Regions from separate parts of the Homo sapiens genome. Here regions 1 and 2 are each linked to region 3. Evidence: fine-mapped expression QTL. A gene starts in region 3. Each other region holds a variant in brackets. All regions are shown on one strand. Distances are between the middles of the regions.

Region 1 (7,910 bases), 31 kb before region 3:
ATAAGGTTAAGAAAAAAACTATTTTCCTTTTGCATTTATATGTTATTCAAATTCTACATGGAGTCTCAGGGCCTGTGGGAAGCTCTTCATTTTATGATCACTCCCTTGAGCTGATAAAGGCACAGTTCCTCAGGAGTGAAGATCAGTCACATAGCTGTCCTTTCCCTTCAATGTCTTATGTGATGTACTGCAATTCATTTATTTACAGCAAAAATGAAGATCTACACTCTTTTAACACAATAATTTTAGCAATTCTAGTATTATTTTTATTTCTACGTTATCTATTTTTATGTAAAACTCAAATGTATATTTAAAGTCTTCAGTCATTGGTGGTAGAATTACATATTTTTTTCGCACCTTAGATAAAATTCAGGATGTAAAATGTGATGATATTGATAATCAAAATGCTTGAAATAAAGAAAAGAGGGTTTCTATAAAGCAAGGGGAACTTTACCATTCATTGAGAAATTATATAATGCAATTGTAACTTTTAGGTATATGGTACACTATGATGAGTTATACTCAAATTGTCAGAAACAGAAGCAGTTATGAATAAGGCAGGAAAACAATAGGGTGATTTTTTCCTTCATAGCTTAGGATCTGAATGGTGTGTGCTTAGATGCTTTACATATTAATAGTAAGTGTTCATATTAGTAAAGTTTACTAAAGAGCGGTCATAAAACCAATTAATATGGTTTAAATATTTGTCCCTGCCCAAACCTCATGTTGAATTGTAATCCCCAATGTTGGAGGTGGGGCCTGATGGGAGGTGCTTGGGTCATATCCATCATGGCTTGGTGCGGTCCTCTTGATAGTGAGTTCTTGCAAGATCTGGTCATTTAAAAGTGTGTGGCACCTTCCACCCTGCCTTGCTTCTGCTCTGCCAAGTGAGATGCTGGCTCCTCCTTTGCCTTCTGCCATGAGTAAAAACTTCCTGAGGCCCCACCAGAAACCAAGCAGATGTCAGTACCATGCTTTTGGTACAGCCTGAAGAACTATAAGCCAATTAAACCTCCTTTCTTTATAAATTGCCCAGTCCCAGGTATTTCTTTATAGCAATGCAAGAAAAGCAGTACCAGAAGTGAAGTGGGGTATTGCAATAAAGATACTTGAAAATGTGGGAGCAGCTTTGGAATTGGGTAATGGACAAAGGTTGGAAGAGTTTGGAGGGCTTACAAGAAGACAGAAAGATGAGAGAAAGTTTGGAACTCTCTTAGGGACTGGTTAAATGGTTGTGACCAATATGCTGATAGTAATATGGACAGTGAAGTCCAGACTGATGAGACCTCAGATGGAAATGAGGCTCTTATTGGGAACAAGAGCAAAGGTCATCTTTGTTATGCTTTAGCAAAGAACTCGGTTGTATTGTGTCCATACCTTAGGGATTTGTGGGAGTTTGCACATGAGAGTGATGATCTAGAGTATCTGGCAGAAGAAATTTCTAAGCAGCAAAGCATTCCAGATGTGGCCTGGCTGCTTCTGACAGCCTAAGAAATGACTTAAAGTTGGAACTTATATTTAAACAAGAAGCAGAGTGTAAAAGTTTGGAAAATTTGCAGCCTACCGTGTGGCAGTAAAAGAAAAAGCTTTTCAAGACAGAAATTCAAGCAAGCTGTGGAGGAACCACTTGCTAGAGATATTGGCATAACTAAAAGGGAGCCAGGTGCTAACATCCAAGACAATGGGAAAAAGACCTCAAAGGCATTTCGGAGACCTTGGCAGCAGCCCCTCTCATTACAGGTTCAGAGGCCTAAGAGTGATGAATGGTTTTGTGGGCCAGGACCAGGGCCCCACGGCCCTGTGCAGCCTCAGGACACTGCTCCCCACATCCCTACTGCTCCAGCTCTAGCCATGGCTCAAAGGGGCCCAGGTCCACCTCCAGCTGCTACTTAAGAGAATGCAAGCCATAAGCTTGGGCAGCTTCCATGTGGCATTAAGCCTGCAGGTGCTTAACTGTGGGTACCAGAGTGAAGGTTTAGCAGCTTCTGCCTGGATTTCAGAGGGTGTATGAGAAAGCCTGAGTGCCCAGGAAGAAGCCTGCTGCAGGGGTTGAGCCCTCCCAGAGAACCTCTACTAGGGCAGTGCTAAGGGAAAATGTGGGATTGGAGGTCCCACACAGAGTCCCCACAGGGGCAGTGTCTAAGGGAACTATGAGAAGGGGGCCACCAGCCCCCAGACCTCAGAATGGTAGATCCACTGACAGCTTGCACCCTGTGCCTGGAAAAGCCACAGGTATTCAACCCTAGCTCACGAGAGCATCCCTGGGGGCCAACCCTGCAAAACCATAGGGGCAGAGCTGCCCAAGGCCTTGGGGGCCCACCCTTTGCACCAGTGTGTCCTGGATATGGGACATAGAGTCAAGGATTATTTTGGAGCTTTAAGATTTAACAACAATCGGGCATGGTGGCTCACGCCTGTAATCCCAGCACTTTGGGAGGCCAAGGCAGGTGGATCAGTTGAGGTCAGGAGTTCGAGACCAGCCTGGACAACATGGTGAAACCCTGTCTCTACTAAAAATACAAAAATTAGCTGGGCATGGTGGCAGGTGCCTTCAATCCCAGCTACTCGGGAGGCTGAGGCAGGAGAATAGCTTGAACGTGGGAGGCAGAGGCTGCAGTGAGCTGAGATTGTGCCATTGCACTCCACCCTGGGCAACAAGAGTGAGACTCCATCTCAAAAAAAAAAAAAAAAAAAAAAAAAAAAAAAAAAAATATATATACATATATATATATATATATATATATATATATATATATATATATATATTTAATGACTGCCCTGCAGGGTTTAAAACTTGCATGGAGCCTCTAGCCCCTTTCTTTTGGTCAATTTCTCCCTTTTGGAGTGGGAATGTTTATCCAATGCTTGTACCTCTATTGTATCTTAGAAGTAAATGACTTGATTTTTTATATTACAGGCTCATGGGTAGAAGGCACTTACCTTGTCTCAGATGAGACTTTGGACTTTGAACTTCTGAATTAATGCTGGAATGACCTAAGACTTTGGGGGATTATTGGGAACACATGGTTGTATTTTGCAATATGGGAAGAACATGAGATTTGGGAGGGGCTGGGGTGGAATTATATAGTTTAAATATTTGTCCCTGCCCAAATCTCATGTTGAATTGTGAACCCTAATGTTGGAGGCAGGACCTGGTGAGAAGTGTTTGGATAATATCCCTCATGGCTTGGTGCTACCCTCATGCTAGTGAGGGAGTTCTTGCAAGATCTGGTTTAAAGTGTGTGGCACCTCCACCCCCCTTGCTCCTGCTCTGCCATTTGCCACACTGGCTCCCTATTTGCCTTCTGCCATAAGTAAAAGCTTCCTGAGACCTCCCCAGAAGCCAAGCAGATGTCAGTGCCATGCTTCCTGTATAGCCTGCAGAACTGTGAACCAATTAATCTGCTTTTCTTTATAAATTATCCAGTCTTGGATATTTCTTTATACCAATGCAAGAATGGACTAATACACCAATCAAGAAAGTAAATACCATCCAAAGGGATTAAGATTGACTATAAATTTTAAAATATGAACATTCTGAATTTTTCTTCCTGTTATTAATGCTTAATGAAGTCCTGGAAATGGGAACGGAGAAGTGGATCCAAATACATCCACATCTGCGTGTGCTTTTTGCTGGGGCTTTATCTGCATTCTCTCTCTGCTATGGTCTGAGTGCTTGCATCCTCCCAAAATTCATATGTTGAAACCTAATCCCCAATGTGCTGGTATTAAGAGATGGGAAACAATTAGGTTATGAGGGCTCTGCCTTCATGAATGGGATTAGTGCCCTTATAAAAGAGGCCCAAGGAAACTTGTTTGCCCCTTCTACCATACGAGGACACAGAATGATGGCCCCATCCATGAGGCAGAGAGCTAGCACTCACCAGACA[C/G]CAAATCAGCTAGCACCTTATCTTGGACTTTCCAGCCTCAAGGACTGTGAGCAATAAATTTCTGTCATTTATAAATTATCCAATCTAAGATATTTTGTTATAGTAGCCCAAAAGGACTAAGACATCCCCCTTAATGACTGGAGTCAGAATCACATCAAAAAATAAGGCTGAGTTGGAGCCAGCAACATTTATTCACAAGAGAAAGACAGGAATTGGACTGGCTGCAGAGAGGCCCACAGAGTCAGAGACCATCCACCTCAGCTACAGCACAGGGCTCAGCACTGTATTTCTGGTGTTAGTGCTATTCTCAATTCTGTCCCTAGTTCCTGCTACTGAGGAACTCCATACACAGCAGGACAGTCTTCTGCTGTGCCATGAATTCAAACACAATCTGTAAAGACAGTGAAGGAAGCTACGTCTGTGCTTAGGTGCTTTAGAGAATTATCGGCTTGCAGTAATAAGAGAAATGTCTGGGCTGGGTAGTCCTCAAAGACTCCCATGTGGTTCAAGATAACAAAATATAAAGGCTGAGCATCTCGTGCTCCCAACCTAGTTCTAAGGCGTCTATGGAGGGATAGTGAGTGGGGCTCTCTATGGCAGTGATTGCCTCTAATGAAGGAACCAAAAGCCAGGCAGGGATTAGGGTGGGCTTCTGGTTTTAGAAAACATGATGGTAGAGCTCTTCATAGGAAGTTTTTAAGATCAAGGTAGGATCCTGCTTGGAGGATCGTAGCCTGGCAGTCTGGATCAGCCTGGTGGTGGAGGTGAAGGGTGTGGAAGCTGGACTCACTTTGGCACACAAAGTTCAGGAATGAGTTGACAACCAAGGCCCCGTGGCTATGGAAGATCGTATCACATGACCCCAAAGTATGGCAGGGCAGCCAGCGGAGCAGTTCTACCTCTCTACCTTGGGCCTGCAGGGTGACATCAACATTGATAACATTGAAGGCATGATGTTGTCAATATTTATTATAAGCACACTTATAATCTTAAATTTGCACTTTATCCTAGCCTCCGTGGTGCCTATTGTATTTATGGGTGAGTAGTTGGAGGTGACAGAATATAATCTTTCAGTTGCATTTAAAGTTTTATGTTTCTTAAAGTTACAGAAAGTTCGTTCCCAGGACTGGGGCTAATGGCTCTTCTCCTGCTCCTTACAGATAATGTGGCACTTCCATTGCCTAGTATGGAACCAATATATCACATGAATGTGCACTTACCTAGAACTAGTCTTATATCAGGAATGAGGATCCAGGGATCCTTGCAAAGAAAGAAATAATAATTCAGAGAAACCCTACACTCTCAGGATAAGAAGGGGGAAAATCAAGGTTCCCGCCATCAACCAAATGGTTTGAGTCCAGGCAGAATCTAAACCATCACTCACAGTGCGCCATCTGCTCCAGCACCAGCCCTCCTGATTCTTTTGCAGGTCAGCAGGCATGAAAGAGTTAATAGCAAAGGCCATGAGAAACTTGCTCGCTGTTATAGAGAAATCACTTTTAGTTCCAGTTGCTGCTGCCAGAGGAGATGCTTGAGAGCAAGATAGGAAATAATAAGGAAGAAAAGGACTTTTGAATCACATGAGAGTCTTCGAGGACTACTCAGCCCAGATGTTCCTCTTATTGCTTCAAGCCAATAATTCTCTAAAGCCCCCATGCACAGATGTAGCTTCCTTCACTGTCTTTACAGATTGTGTTTGAATTCATGGCAGACCAGGAGACTGTCCTGCTGAGTATGGACTTCCTCAGTAGCAGGAACTAGGGACAGAATTAAGAATAATATAACATATATGAAATAACTGTATTCCATAACTGGAAATACAGTGCTGAGCCCTGTGCTATAGCTGAGGTGGATAGTCTCTGCACTTTAAAAGAGAGTCTTTGAGCAACTGCAGACAAAGACTGATATAACTTCTTGATTAGAAAATCAGCTGAAAGGCCGGGCGCAGTGGCTCACGCCTGTAATCCCAGCACTTTGGGAGGCTGCGGGGAGTGGATCACTTGAGGTCAGGAGTTCAAGATCAGCCCGACTAACATAGTGAAACCCTGTTTGTACTAAAAATACAAAAATTAGCTGGGCATGGTGGTGCATGTCTGTAATCCCAGCTACTTGGGAAGCTGAGGCAGGAGAATTGCATGAACCCAGGAGGCAGAGGTTGCAGTGAGCCGAGACTGTGCCATTGCACTCCAGCCTGGGCAACAGAGCCAGACTTCATCTAGAAAAAGAAAAAAAAAAATCAGCTGAAAAGACCAGAAGAGAACTCCATGAGACAGGGAATAATGGTGAGCCAGGACTATTATAGGAGAAACAGATCTGGGCCAGATTCAGGACTTCACCCATTCCAATTTTAGAGAGGAGGGCTTGGAATTTAAGGACTGAGCCCTTCCACCATCACTATCCACTCCATGCTAAGAGAACATTAGGTGGCCTCTGTTTTTAAGGCTCTGTGCTGCTGAGCAGGACATGCTTGCTATTGAGGTGGGTAGGATAGTAGGTTACCTATAAGGTTCCTTCCAGGCAGTAAAGAAACTGAAGAAAGAGCAGGTTAGGAAAAGGGAGAGAAGTGTTGGTGCAGCAGCCAGCCACAGGGAAAGGAATTTGGTGGCCTTGGAGGGAGGGAAAGTGGGGACAGTATCTTCAGTAGGATTAACATGGATTTGCATTTGAATTGTAAAATGAGAAGTTGCTTAGTCGGATCTCAGACTGAGGGTCCATGGTGCTCCTATATGTTTCTAGATTATTTGTAATATGCTGTTTATATGCATGTATATGTACAAATGTAAGAGCTCTTAGCAAACTTAAGCATACACACAAAGACTTAAATTACTTGTTTAATACAGTGGTGTCCAGTTGGTTTTTTTGTTTGTTTGTTTGTTTGTTTTTGGCCAAATTCTTTGATGAAGTCAAATCTAATTTGAAAGTTGAAGGTCTAAAACAGATAAATGCAAGAGCTACTGTGATCGAAGCAGACAAATTGAGGAGAGCAAAATCATTTAATCAAAGAGGAAGACGTGACCCAGCTCAACTTCCTGGTGGACGACCTCAGCTGTGCTGTTGTTACTAGTGTCTAACAGGAAGAGGAACCTAATTACAGCTCAGCCACTTCGAGCTGCTGAGCTTGAGCAAATTATCTCATCTCTCTGAGGATTCATTTCCTCTTCTGTAAAATGGGGATATCAGTAGCTAGTTTTAGATAACTGTGTGAGGATGATTAAATGATACAACATACCTGAAAGCACCTAGCATAATATCTGGTGAAAGCAGTGAAAGACGCTGGACAAGTGTTTGTTTCCTTTCTGCAGCCAATTAAGATTCTGGGAAACTGTAACTCTACCCAGGCTTTCCAGTAGCTTATTTTTTATTGTTCTATTGTAGTGCTTAAATAAGGATAACTTTTCCAGAGATAGCCTAAGTTTCTCATTTCTCTGGCTCTTGGAATTTCCAGTGCTTCACAAAGACTTTAGTGTTAAGAATGTAAGGTGTAGCACAGTATTTCAATAAGTCCCCAGTTCTACATGGAAGGGAGCAGTGTGCCACAAATGTTCTTGGCATTGATTCACATTTAGATATACATTTCAGTCATGACATGGACATAGATATAAAACTGAAACAAAAGTTTCACGAAATTAATAAACATAACGTGATGCACTTTTTAATTTTTTTTCATTAAAAATAGACTACTGGTCACAATCATTAAATTAATTTCACAAACCCATAATGGGCCACTGCCCATTATGGATTCAATAAACACTGTGTGATATGCACTTTGAAAACGACCACTGTATTTGGATCCAGTGTGGGAGTGATAAGAAGGAATATGGACTCATCACCAACTGCCCATATTTTTAGGACCCTCTAGAGTGATTTTTTTTTTTTCTGAAAAGCCAGAATTCTAAGATTGTCATCACATATTTTCACCGGAAATTAATGTCATTCCTTGGTTTTAGCTTCTCTGCATAGAACACTACATGCCTGAGTTTGTGTTGCCACATTTGCATGGGCACAAATAAGTTATTTTTA
Region 2 (7,910 bases), 21 kb after region 3:
CCACATGTTAAATTTCATGGGGAGCTTGGAGACAATTAGATGTGGCTGTTGTGGAGGATGAATGTGGTAGATGCCAATTGTTGAAGGAAGAAAGGTTGACCGAGGTTATACGGTAAAAAGCTTTCATTTTGGCATAAAATCAGCCAACACTTTATCTAAAGAGATGAAGATAGGGAATTAGAGGCTGTTCCAATCACTCATGCAGGAAACAATGCAATTAACTTGGTAAAAGGTTGGAAGATTTGAAGATGACTTACAGCAAATAACTATCAGGAAGGGGGAAGCAGGAGAGGTATGACAAGCAAAAGATAAAGGGAAAAATAGAGGCAAAGAGAAAAAAAAACAGAAGGAGGAGGCATCCTGTTCATATCTAAATGACGAATTCCAATATCCCAGAAGGGATTCTGTTGACTGGGGTTCTGCATCCTCAAAAAGGCAAAGTCTCCTCCAGACTTTGCTGGAGTTGACTAGCATCTCTCAGCAAAGTGAGGGAGTACTGGAAGCAGAGAAGGCTCTAGATATCAGAAGGTCGGTTAACGTGGAGGCACAGCAGCAAATGGAGCCAAGAGGGATGAAGGCAGCAAAAATTTCCAAAAGGAACTGGAGATCTGGATGTGATCAGCTTCAGGGGGCTAACTGGGATGAGAGAATTGATATATCCGGCTCCTTCTCATTTAGAGAAAACAGTCAGCTCAGGCCTGGCTTATAGATTAAGGACCAGTCACCTGGATCCAACCACACAGAGGAAATAGTGGTGGATATAAAGGAGCTTATTTCCCCTCTCAGGATACCGGGGTAGAAAAGCGGAAGGATCAGACACTTGCAGAGGAGAAAAGAGAAGTCACTGTGCTTGTCCACTGTCCTGGCTAGTAATAGCAACGGTCAAGGCCAGAGGTTACGTGTAATGAAGACAGTGGAGCTAACTGATTTCGTCCAGCTGCAGGTCTAGGTGCGGCAGGCCATCTTTTTCACCCTTATCCACCCGGCACCCACTGAGGAGGGACTGTTCTAATAAAGATGGCTTCAGTAGGCCACTGCGAGTCAAGGCTGGGTCTGTCTCCAAAGTGAGTTTGGTTTTTCTTTATGAAACCTCTGGTCACGAGAATATGAGAGTTTCCACTCTGGTTCTGAACTATGGGTCATCAATCCTAATGGGTTATGGGTTCCAGCTGTGAGATTTGCTGTCCCTGTTTGGGATTACAAAAAGTAAATGAAGCTCTCCAGTTAAGACCAGGTGTGGGCAGTCAGAGCTGAGAGGCCAGGAGTGTCCCTCTGAAGAAGGTGGTGACCGCAGAGAAAGTGGTGCTGGGCCTGAATCACTGGTGGGCAGAGATGGTGCCTGCCAGTCCTGAGCCAACCTCTTTGGAGCCCACTCCACAGAGATAAGAGCAACAGCAGCCCTGAAAGCACCTCAAGGACTTCTGCTGCAACCGAGGCTTCCCACTGCATTTCCCCCTTACAGACTCTCCAGTAATTCTTTAGACTCTGTAAGTATGGCATGTGTATTTCATTGAAAAAGTAATGTAAGCATGCTCTAGAAAACCCAGGAAAGAACTACCCACACCACCACCACCGAAAAGTTAATTAGATACAATCAGAGTTTTCCTCCACTGGACCTTATCCATCTTAGTTCACAGTCTCAGAGTTAGGACTTGAGGCATTTGTGGAAGTAAATCAACTAGAGCACCCTTAAGACTTTATTCAAAAATGCTAGGCATGAGTAATTTCAGAGAGAATATTCTCACTTGGAGAAGCAGCGTGAGCCAGACAGAATTTTTAATAAGGATTTAGGAGGCAGGGTCAGCTGAAGTTCAACTGGTTTAGGGAATAGTGCAAAGATGGTTCTAAGAAATATGAGGAATTGTTTCTAAGGATGATGAACTACTGTTTGGGATTTTTACCGAGAGGGTGAGGAGGAATAGTTAGGAGCTGTGGCCATATGGAAGAAGGGTGGGGAGAAATATTACCGGGCATAAGGAAGTTTAAGGACCACCAGTGGAAAATTCTCAGTCTATGTGTCTCTTTTAAAAAAATTTTGTGGATACATAGTAGGTGTTTATGGGGTACGTGAAATGTTTTGATAAAGGTATCTATTAGCGTCTCTTGTGAGGACCAAATGGAAACACAGGCCTTCTGACTCCTGGAGAGCATTCTTTTCACATTCCATAGATGCCCCAGCCTTTCTCAGTTTGGCAGGTGATTGAGAAAGAACCCCAAGGCGTCCTGGCCTTTCCCATGGAAAGGCAGGTTGAGATAAGAAGAGGGCTGGACTGCACAGACAAATTCAAAGATTTTACCACCTTGTCCTAGGGTTATAATTTATCTTCAATTGGACCAGGGCCTGCAGGAGTTTAGTCCTACATATTTCTGGCCTGCAGCTACATGAAGGGAATTCTGCCTCCAGTGATTGAGAAAACTCAAGGATTTCCTTACAAAGGCGTTTCACTTTTTGATGGCTTGACCCTGGAAGCATCACTGTATCAATGATTGTTGTTGTTCCTCTTAATCAAATTATTCTCAGCTCCATCCTGAGATGTTTCAGCTGACAGCCTGGATGGCCAGGCCTGTAGCCCATTGTACCTTTCTGCCCAAGGGGCGATGTAGCCCTGTGCACTGGCTGTTCAGAGATAGTGGTAGATCCATGTTTATTTTTCCTGGCTGTGCCTTTAAGAGCTGCAGGAATGTGAAGGGAGTCTGGATGAGGGGTGGGGTCTCCCAATAGGACTTCTGGAAAAGGATCCTGGGAATTTTTGCCAGAAACTAAACTGAGAGTCCAACTTTAAAAAGTTGGGGGTGGTTTGTGTTGGGGAAGGCCTGCGATTGGACTGCAGAATCCACTAGGGAGGAGGAAAGCAAAAGTAAAAAGGAAATAGCTGGGGGAAGGGAACGGGGGGAAGCCATCTTCACCCCCCACCCCAATGCACACACAATTAAGCCAGGAAGCAGCTTGCAACCACTAGCCTGGGGAGGGTCCGCATGTGTCAAGGGTGAGGGCAACAGATGCTGGACCCAGGGAGCTCTCTGCCACAGGTCAGTCTACAAGGCCTCAGGGACCAACTTGCCAACAGCTGGACTTGATCACTAGCTGGCAAACTGAGCTCACGTATCGGGTGGAATAACAAGCGGACTTTGCTCTCTGCTGTGCAAAACGCTGTTTTTAGAGGATTTGCCACAGCAGCGGATAGAGCAGGAGAGCACCACCGGAGCCCTTGAGACATCCTTGAGAAGAGCCACAGCATAAGAGACTGCCCTGCTTGGTGTTTTGCAGGATGATGGTGGCCCTTCGAGGAGCTTCTGCATTGCTGGTTCTGTTCCTTGCAGCTTTTCTGCCCCCGCCGCAGTGTACCCAGGACCCAGCCATGGTGCATTACATCTACCAGCGCTTTCGAGTCTTGGAGGTAGGTGGCATCTGTACACCTTGGATAAGTAACAGGCTTCCCAGAAGTACCTTATTTTTACCCATGCTTCTCTATCTACTGGGTTGTATTTTTCCCAGATAGCAAATGACACATTGCCAAAGTTACACTTTAAAATGCTCATAGTCTGGCAGTTTAGAGCCGAACTCCAGAGTCCAGTGTGCTACTTCCAGACCTTAAGCACAGTTGCACTTTGTGCTCTGATTTGGCAGTTTGTCTCATCTGTAAAATGGGGATAATAGTAGAATTTATGTTGTAAGGCTATCCTGAAGATTTAATCCATAGCTAAAATACTGCCTGGCATAATGGTATGTATCTAAAATGTTATTATTCACCATAGTTCATTTTTTAAAATATGAAACTTAAAAATGTTGGTTACTTTTTCTTCATGTTTTAGTGTTTCAGGCTGATAATGGATTTCAGCTTTTCGTTTTGTCTTTTATGATAAACCATTAGGTCACTGTAAAAAGTCATGATATCAATGTACTGAGAAGTCTTAGTTTCTTTTGCTGAACTGGATTTAGACTTAGAA[G/A]TGAGCAGATTTCAGCCAAGTTAAACAGAAAGAATGCATTTGGGCTGCCACCTCATTAAAATGTGCAAAACCCAACATTTTGGCAGCCTGGACAGGCTCCCAGGGACAAATGTAACCCTCCACCCTAGCCTTTGCCACACCCTGGCATTGATTATTCATACTTAATGGCTTGCTTTTGTACAAGCTAAATTGATAAATTATTTATCTTCTTTCAAAGACCCTCTTATTGCTAATAATTATTTTATACATTTTCCTGAAAAATCTTCATGTCCAAATTATATGTTCTTCTAGTTATAGTCAGGGTAAAGTAATTCCACATAGCAGGCCGAATGCATTTCCTAAGGGCGTCCAGCCAACAGGCTGGGGCCTGGAGGCAGTGGATGAAGTGTTCCCAGACGAGCGGCCTCTTGCGCTTCTTCACTTGCTCCCTCCTGAGCCTCACCTCCTTAGAAGTGCCAGAATGATGCTCAGTCAGGATCCCTCTGCATTTAGCACCGACTTGCCTTGGGAGTAAAGCCAGCCAAATCCCTGCAAATTGTCTTTCACTACCTTAAGAACTTGTCAAGGGTATGAAGTACAGACTGATCCTTTTATAGCTATGAATGTGGATTTGAAAAAGACAAGGATATGATCTGTATAGATCTTCCCACCCCAGTCCTGACCTGAGGTGAAGCCAAGTCGCAGGTGGCAGTCACTGTTGGCCAGCGCAGACACTTAACAATACAGTGATAGCATTCCCAGCCTGAGAAGCCAGTGTCGGAGGGGTAGGAAAAAAGAGGGTAGGGATTTAGGGAATTATTTTGGGTCTCTCTTTCTGTCTTTCTCCCTTCAAAATAAACAGCCTTACGTATTGTTGTTTGGAGCATACATTTTTACATTTGTGGATAGAATTTTGATAAACCATGCCAAATGAGCTTTAAGTAGACATTCTCTTTGACCAAGCAATCCCATTTCCATTCATTTATTCTTTTGTTCAGCAAATATTTATTGAATAGTATTATGTGCTTGGCCCTGTGCCAAGTGCTAGGGACGGATATTCTGGAAATCTACCTTAAAATAATCTGATGAAGATGTAAATACAAAGGTTTTTTTTTCCCTTAATAATCTGATGAAGATGTAAATAAAAAGTTTTTTTCTCAGCATTGTTTGAATGACAAAAAATTAAAAACTATGTAAATGTACCTCAAAAAGAGTCTAACAGAATAAATAATGGGATATCAATTAAATGGAATGCTCTCATTAAAGTTATGGTATAGGTATACTTTAATTAGTATCAAAGTATGTTCACAATATATCTGCAAGTGAAAAAGATGATACAAAACATATAGTAAAATCACATTTTAAAAATATATATTTACATATGTATGACTAAATGCTTGGGAAAACTTTTAAAAACTGATATACTCAAGTATCAATACTACCTTTGAATTTAGGAATTATGGGAGATTTCAATTTTTCCCCTATTTGATGATGTGTAATTTTCTAATCCTTTTCTATAAATGATAGGTATTTATATTATTTGGGTAATTTAAATAACAAGCAATAATTTGCAAATTTATTTTCTGACTGAAGCAAGGGCTGGAAAAATGTACCCAAGCAACGAGGGCATACATTCAAGAATTCCAAGAGTTCTCAAAAAATATATCTGTCATGCTGGGAAGATGTCAGACCTACACAAGTGAGTACAAGAGTGCAGTGGGTAACTTGGCACTGAGAGTTGAACGTGCCCAACGGGAGATTGACTACATACAATACCTTCGAGAGGCTGACGAGTGCATCGAATCAGAGGACAAGACACTGGCAGAAATGTTGCTCCAAGAAGCTGAAGAAGAGAAAAAGATCCGGACTCTGCTGAATGCAAGTAAGAAAACTGCATCTTTTCCTAGCCCTTCTAGGGACTATTATGCTCAGAAACACACAGACTCAGAGCAGTCAGGGAGCATCATAGAGTAATGAGAGTAAGAATTGGAGGTGTGCTTTTGTGTGCATTGCTGAGAGAGAAAGCTATACAGAGAACAGGTGTCCAAAGAGAAATCCATTCTCGCAAAGCCATTCTTTCTTTCACACACAGTGCCTAAAGCCTCCATAGATGGTGAAGGCTATAGTGCCAAAAGTCAGCCCAAAGAGACTACCTCCTGATAAATCTTGGTTTGGTGGAGATGTGTGGTCCCAGATTTTTTCAGGGAAAGTAGCAGTTTGGTGGATTCTACATCCAGTACCCAGGCTGTAGATAGCATCTGCAAATGTACCAAGAAACAGTCTTAAATTGGAAATGGCAACAGCCAACCCTCAGGGATGGGAACTGCAGTGAATCACTATTGTGTGTGCTGTCTGAGATGGTGATATGCATGGGATGTGGTCTAATCTTGTGATCCATCAGAATCACTTCCAAGCCATTAAGAATAATGTGTAGCAGCTCAAATTATAATAAACAGTATCAGGCAATAAACACACAAATGACAAAGAAAAATTTTCTGTGCCCGAGTCTATTTCATTAAAACAATGAGGGAGACAAATCTCCCACTTCAGGGTTTGTATTCTGAGATGTTTTCATTGCAAATAGGAAGACTTTATTTACATGCTAATTACGTCTGTTCCAATTCAAGAACCTCCATCAGGGAAATGACATATAAGCTGAGTGCCATCATTGTGCTAAAAGTTTCACATACCTTCTCAATGTAATCCTTCTAAGAACTTCATGGTCACTATAAGGAAAAGGGTCTTCCTAAATGAGGTGACACTTGGTCTCAGTTTTGAACAAAGAAGTTAGAAACGAATGAGTAGAGGGTACTTCAAGTCAGGGCACAATATACCAAAGGCATGAGGGTACTGTAGCACCTTGACATGTAGACCCGCAAATATGGCTGAGTGAAAGCTTTTTAGAGAGGTGACAGTAGGGAAACTAGGTTGAAGAGCTCAGCAGGACCCAGTTAATGAGAGACCTTGCATGCTAGATGAAGGAAGTTGAAGCTCACTGGAGAAACTATAGAGAACCATTGAGCAATTTTAAACAAGGGCATGATACGAAGGAAGAGGCTAAGACTAGAGAGAGGAGACCAGTCAGGGAATGCTGCAATGATTTGGGCAACAAGTAATAGTGTTGGCATTAAGTGTCATGGGACAGAGAACAGGTGGATTTGAGAGCCATTGAGAATTGGAATCCACATGGCTTTCTGACTGCTAATTAAAACTAAATGATGAGTGAGAGAGATGAGTCCAGGATGTTTCCCAGGTTTTGGGCTTAGGTCATCGAATGGTTGGTATGAAATATGCTGAGATGGAAAACTCAAAAGGAGTTTGGGAGCACTTATTACTCTATAATTTTTTTCAGACCATTTATAATTTTGAAACCATTTAGTTCATTTATTGGCTCATAGGTTATTTCCTACCTCCCTATCTGTAATGTCAGCTCTATGAGAGCTTGGAACCCCAGTTTCATGTTCAATGCTGTGTCTCCAGTGCCTAGAATGGGGTCTATTCAATAAATAGTTTTCAGTGAGTAATTAAACAATTAAAACAAATAAATGAGTAGATGTAGGGATTGTCAACACAGGCAGAGGGGTTAGTTAGGCTTTGGTGGGGGGGGGGGCGGGGAACCAAAAAACATCTTATCCCTGAGTCAGAAGAAAGAGAGGAGGGTGCCCTGCCTATAATATGAAGCAATGGGTCAAGTAAGCAATCCTTTTTGGCCCTGACATTGTCCTGAGATGAATCATCCTCAAAGAGGGAGAAGCTGGCGGTAAGCACAGAGTGAGGGAAGGAAATGGGTCAAAAGAGGATGAACAGGGGCTTCCTAAAAAGCTGATGGAGAGGACTGGGTGCTAATGTGGCCTGAGCTAGAATGTGTCCGAACTCTCACACTGGGGGTTCAGGCAGGACGCTAAGTCTGAATAGTGGTGCTGAATTGGATCCCTGAGCTGTTTCTGGTCCCTGGATACTCTCAGCCCACCAGGTGTTGAGAC
Region 3 (7,910 bases):
TCCTTTTATTCTGTGTTCCTTCTCTTCATCCTTGATTCTATAGTCTTCTTTTGACCACACTGAGCCCTTCAAGAATAGAATGTGCATTATTTATCTTTGTGTTTTGTTTGTTTGTTTTTTGAGAGGGAGTCTGGCTCTGTCACCCAGGCTGGAGGGCAGTGGCATGATCTCGGCTCACAGCAACCTCCACCTCCCAGGTTCAAGTGATTCTCCTGCCTCAGCCTCCCAAGTAGCTGGGACTACAGGCACCCACCACTACACCCAGCTAATTTTTGTATTTTTAGTAGAGACGAGGTTTCACCATGTTGACCAGGCTGGTCTCGAACTCCTAACCTCAGGTGATCCATCCGCCTTGGCCTTCCAAAGTGCTGGGATTACAGGCGTGAGCCACAGCGCTGAGCATAACTTTGTTTTCTTAGGGCTCAGCACAAATGCCCGGTGCTCAATAAATGTTTGTTGAATGATGAATACATGTAATGAATATTAATTTGAAGTAACAGACTCCAAACATCCTCCACTTTACTTCATCAGGTAGAGTAATTTTGGCCCTATAGTAATTTCCTATCTTGCCACCTCATCGAAAAATATGACAGTCCTTGTCTTACCTTCTGAATGGTGCCTTCACTGTAGCCTTTGCTTCTTGATTGTTTCTAATGAGCCCCTCTCAGTAAATAACAATCTACATGTCACACATGCCACGCACCATTTGCCACCTTTCCCCTCAAGGTCTACTTGACGGTGAATCTTAACACACTCTCCTGTGAAGTCTGGACTGTTCAGAATTCATTTCTGGACTAAGAATCCTTTCTAGAAAGGTGCTGTAGTGGAGTTACCATTCAAAGCACAATAATTTACCATTCTGGGCATAGCACTTAAGAGCATACATTTTAATCCATAAAAGCATGGTGGCAGATTCTGGCTCTGCCATTTACTACCTTTATTATTTGGCCTTTTTCAGACTCAGTTACCTCACTGTGAAACTGTAATTGTAATATCTATCACAGAGGGTTAAGGTGAGGCATGAATGAGATAAGGTATGCAAAGCTCTTAGGATAGAGCTAGTGCTTAAGCACTCAATAAATAGTAGTTGTTGCCCAAATGGACCCTTTCATTTTTCCATGCTACTGGCCCAATCTCCTGAAAGGCAGTATAGTCACATTCATACTGCTTTATTTCTTTAACATACTTGTTCTTAAAGCCGAGAGAGGAAGTAAAAAAAAAATAGAATGTCCTCTTTACAGAAAGAAGCTAATCAGATTGTAAACTGGCAGCGCGTGATAATTTTTCATATATTTGTAAAGCTGTGCTAAGCAACAGTCAACAAAATCAGATTCTAAACCAGCAGAGCATGATGAATCTTCATATATTTGCAAAGCTGTGGTAAGCAATAAATAGTCAACAAAATCCTGAGATTTTTGTGCTTTTTAAATAAAATTTTAAATGTAAATTTAACAATATTAAGTACATAATAAGATTAAATCATGTAATAAGAATCACTTCCATTTTTGACAAGCTTCTTAGTTCAGAGCCCTTAGGTACTTCCTGTAATAAAGTCCCATTTTCAGATTCACAGAGAGATATTATCTAATGTTTCACTCTGTCTTTTCATGTTCTTAATTTGGGGTCTGTTTCAATGGCCTGTCTCATATCAGCTGTCATTTTTGTGATCGAAATGTCACTTCACATTACAGTTTTCATTAGGACAGTTCTCATCTTTGGTTTCAATTCAATTTAATTCAAATTAGATCCTTATGTCTCAGGACAATTGAATTCACTTACAATCTTCTCTGTTCAGATAGGATTGTAACCACTACTTCCTGTTGATACTACTGGAGTTGTTGGTACCTTCTAAACCCCTGGTACTGCCTGGGAGCCCACCAGGTCTCATAACAAGGACACTGCTGCTTCTGCCCATGGAAATGGGGCTGGCACCAGCACTGGAACCAGCCAAGCTAGCATTATGCTCAACAGTTATTAAACCACCGTTACTGTCTCCGGTGTTGATGACTGAGTCTCTACCACCTTCCTCTCAACAAAATCCCACTGGGTCAATGCTTTTCTGAATTATGGAAAAATCTTTCTTTTCTCACATTTTGTTTTATACAATTTTTGGCTGAAAAACAGCTCACTAGGTTATAGGAGTTTGGAAAGGTGTAATTTGCTTATTTTGTTTGATTTGGTTGAGATTTTCTAGTCTTCCCCCAACAGAAGCCAGACAAAAGGGGGCTGAACAACAACAGCAAAATTTACTCATGTCTTCTCCTGAGACAACTTTTTCAGAACTGACTTGTATGCTTGACTTTCCCTAGAATAAGTTTGTTTTCAAGAGGCTTTTCTTGCAATATTGCTGGTAGCAATGACCCTATCACGACACCAGATGTATTGAAACTCCTTAATCCTGTCATCTTGTGGGCTTGGTCCCAGCTCACAAGCATTCTAGGACCTTAGTGGCGCTGTCCAGAAGAGGAAAAGATTCAGAGCCCAGAAAACTCACCCAAGTGAAGGGCTGCACCTTAAGAAGGGGGAGACCAGTAGGCTGCACCGCCGTATTTCCAGAGGCTGACCTTGATTCTGGCTAATTACACACACAAGGAAATTCACCAAATGAGCAAAACCCAGCTATGGAGTTCAGGTGGGAGCTGTGCTATGACTTGGCCATTGGCAACAATGCCAATGCTAGTGGTATCCCTGGGTATGGGGACTGGTAAAAAAAATTGGCTAAGGTTGCAGCCTAGCCCTCTAAGCAGGCTTTAGACAGGCCATAAGAAATCAGGTACAGAGGTGGTCCCTAAGGCTGGGTACTTTGGGAGAGCTAAACCCAAAGCATTCTGAAGGAACTGCTTAAATGAAGAGGTAAAATTAGGTCATAATAGGGAAAAATGAGGTTGTGCACAGAACTGTGGGGGCAAACAAGATACATATGCATGTCACTAGCTGGGGGAATCCAGAGAAATGGGATAAGCAGCTAGGAAACCATAAGTGGGATGTGGCACCTGCTGTATGCTACTAGTTTGGACTAGGGTTCTTAAAGGAAGCTCATCTGGCTAGATTTAGGGAGTCTAGAAAGCCAAGGCAGATAAAGTACTTTTAATACATCAGAAATGTAGACTGGACCTACAGAGGGAATTGACATAATTGCTAAAGCTTGGACTTTGAAATTGGAAGTCTTGGGTTTAAATCTCAGCTCTGACACTTAGTCACAGTGTGGCCTTGTGCAAATTAGTGTCTCTACAACGCTGCATCCTCCATTAAAGAACCCCACGGGGTCTTTTAAGAACTTGTAAAGTCCATATCCCAGTGCCTGGCATACAATAAGTACCCAAAAATGAAGGAATATGGGCTGATACCATCACAACTAATTCCAGACCACATTCATTGGTGACACTGAGCCTGTTAACAATTTGCTTTCTCTGATGGGAAGGAACTCAGGAATTGGCAAACTGATATGGGTATGGGTTTCACAGTTGAAAGAGCGGCTAGGGAACCACGGGCCTGATGTAGATGGTGGCTTAGAAAGTAGAGCTATTCGGGGCCAGGCGCGGTGGCTCACGCCTGTAATCCCAGTACTTTGGGAGGCCGAGGCGGGCGGATCACGAGGTCAGGAGATCAAGACCATCATGGCTAACACAGTGAAACCCCGTCTCTACTAAAAATACAAAAAAAAAAAATTAGCCGGGCGTGGTGGCGGGCGCCTGTAGTCCCAGCTACTCAGGAGGCTGAGGCAGGAGAATGGCATGAACCCGGGAGGTGGAGCTTGCAGTGAGTCGAGATTGCGCCACTGCACTCCAGCCTGGGGACAGAGCAAGACTCCATCTCAAAAAAAACGAAAGTAGAGCTATTTGGATGGTGCTCCAGGGTAGCAGCTGATCTGGCAAACTGATATTTGAACCACAATATTAAGACAAATATCATTCAGTCTTTCTTCCTAGACACAGAAACAAAGACCCCTTTCCCAGAGATGTGTGTGTGTGCCCACACACATGCACACACTTCAAAGCCACGGGTCACAATCAAACGTGGTTTCCCTTTGCAGTGAACACACTGGCTTTTAATACTTTCCTTAAGTAAGTTATAGCCTCACATGTGAACTTTTGATCTCTGAAATGAAGTCCATAAATTTCATTGTCAGAATGGTTGCTACTCTTTTATAGTTTACGTGTAAATTTTGTTATTCCTATATCCATAGAAGTCACTTCAGTTTTTTCTCTCTATGGCCACAGTATTACTACATTTAATCTGTGCTGGAAGGTGCCCTGAGTTTAAATTAAGTTGAATGCTGGGCTGAGTGTGAAACACAAGAGATACTGCTAGTCTAAGTCTGGGGCTTCCTTAAGAGAGCCCCTCCTTCACATCTCGGAAACAAGGAATGATGTTGCACCACTCAGACCTCATCTTTCCATCCCAGCTGTATTAGTCCATTTTCACGCTGCTGACAAAGACATATCCGAGAGTGGGAAGAAAAAGAGGTTTAACTGGACTTACAGTTCCACATGGCTGGGGAGGCCTCAGAATCATGGCAGGAGGCAAAAGGCACTTCTTACATGGCAGCAGCAAGAGAAAATGAGGAAGAAGCAAAAGCAGAAACCCCTGATAAACCCATCAGATCTCGTGAGACTTATTCACTATCACAAGAACAGCACGGGGAAGACCGGCCCCCATGATTCAATTACCTCCCCTGCCGGGTCCCTTCCCACAACACGTGGGAAGTCTGGGAGGTACAACTCAAGTTGAGATTTGGGTGGGGGCACAACTAAATCATATCACCAGCCTTACCTCCGACCACTTCATTCCTCACACTACAGTCCAGTCACACCAAATTGTGATGATTCCTTCAATGCACCATGCCCTTTATTGCATTCTGCCTTTGCACAGTCTCTTTCCTCTACCCCAAGTGACCCTTCTTCTTTCCAGAGGGATTCCTCTTCAGCCTAAATGGCTTAGCTCAAGACTCATCAATCAGAATGCTCTCTATAGACCTCCTCAATCCCTTTGAAGTTACTTTCTCCCTTCCCATTGCCCCTGCAGTATTCTATGCAGCTTCTCACATCATAATATCTCCATCTGTGAGCCCTTTGAAAGCAGGGGGAGTGTCCTACTTATGGGCTTAGTATCCCCAGCATCTATTACCATGCCTGGCACTTGTTTGGTGCACATTAAAAATGTATGAATGGGCCAGGCACAGTGACTCACGCCTGTAATCCCACCACTTTGGGAGGCCGAGGCAGGCAGATCACAAGGTCAGGAGTTCGAGCCCAGCCTGGCCAACATGGTGACACCCTGTCTCTACTAAAAATACAAAAATTAGCCAGGTGTGGCGGCGGGCACCTGTAATCCCAGCTACTTGGGAGGCTGAGGCAGGAGAATTGCTTGAACCCAGGAGGCGGAGGTTGCAGTGAGCCAAGATCGCGCCACTGCACTCCAGCCTGGGTGACAGAGCAAGACTCTGTCTCAAAAAAAAAAAAAAAAGAAAAAAAATGTATGAATGAAAGCCAAATTATTTTTTTGTTTTTTCTTCCTGCAGAAACGATGACCATGGGTAAGAGGACTGCTTGTGCCAAGGACAAAATAGGACAACCATCTCACAAAGATCTTAAGTAACTTTTTCCATCCAGCAACATCCAGACGATTTCAGTGACCAAATGCTCAGCTGTAACCACAGCACTAACTGGCCTTCTTTCCAGATTGGGTTTGGTGAACCTGAATGGTCCAGCCACCTTCTGCAGGTGGCCCAAGGTGATGTGCTGCAGGGAAGCATGTCTCTCATGCCAAGAACCAAGATCGGACTATGAACAAAAACAAATGATAGATATAGTGACAGTACCAAGAGTACCAGGACTCAATGTTTCATATGAAGCCCTTGGTGATGAGGACATAGCATCTGCCCTGGAAATCGTTATTCCAACATAATATTATTTTCTAGAATGCCCTGGAAGGACAGAATATTTAAAAATATATCCAGGTGCTAAATAGGCAGCAGATCTCAATTCACACATGACTACCTTTGAGCTAATGACTGTCTCCAGAAAATAACTGTGCCCCAAGAAGTGCTCCAGATTTGCAAGGAATAGCCCCAAGAGAATACCAAGACAAGCAGGCTGTTCCCTGGAAAAAATCTAATGCAAGGAGGGCTAGTTCACAGCAAATTCACTGCCTCCTCCCATGCACGTGGTAGAGAGTACCAGTATCAACATGGCCCTGTTTTCTGCTAAAACCAGATTTTGAGGAATCAGAGACCCCCAACACTACTCACTCAGTAGCTAGCAGCCCCTTCCTTTCAACTGGGAGTGTTATTAGAATGAAAAGTAATTAGTTAGAAGGGCATACATCTCAGTGGCATGAGCATTGTGGAATATCCTTTCCTAGGCACATTCGTCCACTAAGGGAACAGCCTCAGAAACTGGTACAGCAATGGGTGAGATGAGATCATGGAGAGAGAACACAGCCATCCCCTATAGAAAGGCACAGCTTTTGGGCTTCTCTGGCCTGAATGCCTTCTGGGGTATTTCCATATGCAACAGCCCAGAGTCATAGCCTTGGGCAACCACACATAGAGGTTTCCTTCTCACTTCAGACACATACATCACTTTCACACCACTTGGGGATGGAAATACCTACAAGAGTGAAGGTCAAGGGCCCTCCCCAGGCATCTCATTCATTACTCAGCTTCCTTCCTGACCAAGTCTGCCAACCAATGGCCAGCTATGCGCCTCATCCTCATTGCTTCTGCCTCCACGTAAATGAAACCAAAGGCCTCAGCATATCCTGGGAGGACTGGGGGCTGTTACCTAATGGTCCTCTCTGTCCCATTATAGGTGCAAGGCACCCCATCCACACATTTGCACCACTACTCCAAGATAGTATTTTTCTTTTCACACAATCTCTTTACAGCAGAATCCAGAGTTGGATTGTAGTTTACCTTCCTGGAAAGCTCATTATCTCTGTTTGAATTAACATTTCAGCATGGAACTAACTGGGCGGAGGAAGGATCGTTATACGTCTTCAGAAAGTTCTCATTGCCCCAGCTGCCTAGTACTATACAAGAAGCTCTACTTTGATGGCAGATCTAAGAAGGCTATAGGCCTTTGTTTGTAGGAAGCAGTGTCATTACATTCAAGCTTCACTTCTCTGATTGGCTTCCAACCACTGGGATTCAAAGAGAATCCAAGGTTCTGCCTATGTCTGATGACATAAGGAAAACTTGGCTTCCTCTGCTCAAGGTTCCCCTCTGCTCATCCCTCCTCATTCAGACATCCTCCACCATACCAGTGTTTAGAAGCAAAACATGAAGGGCTAGCGCCACCAGGATAGTTAGCAGAAATATTGTCTGTAAAGCTAGGCAGATGAGCCCAGAAGAATGGTCCCAGAGAAAGCAGACTGGCTCCAATAGATATCAGGCAGCAATCCCAATAAATTCTGACATGTCCTTGGCAATGGAAGCCTGGGTTGGAGATCCTGAGGCAGCTGTGCCTACTGTTCCCCACCTCAGAAGCTTCCTGCCCAGAGAGCCAGCAGCCTTGGGATACTAATGAGGATGCAACTGGCTTATTGGTATGAAATAGAAGGTGGCTTTGTAGGGGCAAGCAGGCAAAGAGTACTATCCACATGGCAGGCAGGTGGCTTTGTGTCTGGAAAGCTTTGCCTAGCCAGTACAGCTGTGAGCAGAGGCTGGTTATAAATTTGAACTCCCTCAGCCCATTTGCAACTCTGCCTCTGTTCTCTTGCATTCTGTTTGGTTGCCCTTTAGTTTCCTAGTAAATGCTCCTTTTGAAAAACTCCAACCTTGTCTTATTTAACTTGGGGGAAGGGGATTCTCCAATGTCTTTTCCAGGATAAAGAAGGAAATTAAAATACCATGAAAAAATGGACATGGCAGTAGAAAGGAAACATTCTGATCAGACCTTGGGAAAAGC

Evidence for each region. PIP is the estimated chance that this variant, and not a neighbour inherited with it, causes the effect.
Region 1: its variant is fine-mapped to the expression of SYT9-AS1 in tibial nerve (GTEx, PIP 0.94).
Region 2: its variant is fine-mapped to the expression of SYT9-AS1 in subcutaneous fat (FUSION, PIP 0.95).

The regions. Positions count from the first base shown.
Region 1 is chr11:7,429,873-7,437,782 of GRCh38, forward strand. All of the region lies in intron 6 of SYT9 (synaptotagmin 9), which reads left to right. It overlaps SYT9-AS1 (SYT9 antisense RNA 1), which reads right to left. Exons shown (of 5, transcript NR_103855.1): 5 at 7,755-7,910. Among named protein-coding and RNA genes, the nearest start is that of SYT9-AS1, 32 kb to the right of the region's middle. RefSeq lists an enhancer at 6,812-6,861. The variant C/G (reference allele first, on the strand shown) is at 3,891.
Region 2 is chr11:7,482,607-7,490,516 of GRCh38, forward strand. It overlaps OLFML1 (olfactomedin like 1), which reads left to right and starts at 2,900. Exons shown (of 3, transcript NM_198474.4): 1 at 2,900-3,398; 2 at 5,521-5,809. The coding sequence starts at 3,270. RefSeq lists an enhancer at 2,577-3,081. The variant G/A (reference allele first, on the strand shown) is at 3,949.
Region 3 is chr11:7,461,271-7,469,180 of GRCh38, forward strand. SYT9-AS1 (SYT9 antisense RNA 1) reads right to left here and starts at 4,565. Exons shown (of 5, transcript NR_103855.1): 1 at 4,483-4,565; 2 at 1-66. It overlaps SYT9 (synaptotagmin 9), which reads left to right. Exons shown (of 7, transcript NM_175733.4): 7 at 5,522-7,773. The coding sequence ends at 5,530. RefSeq lists an enhancer at 6,652-6,711.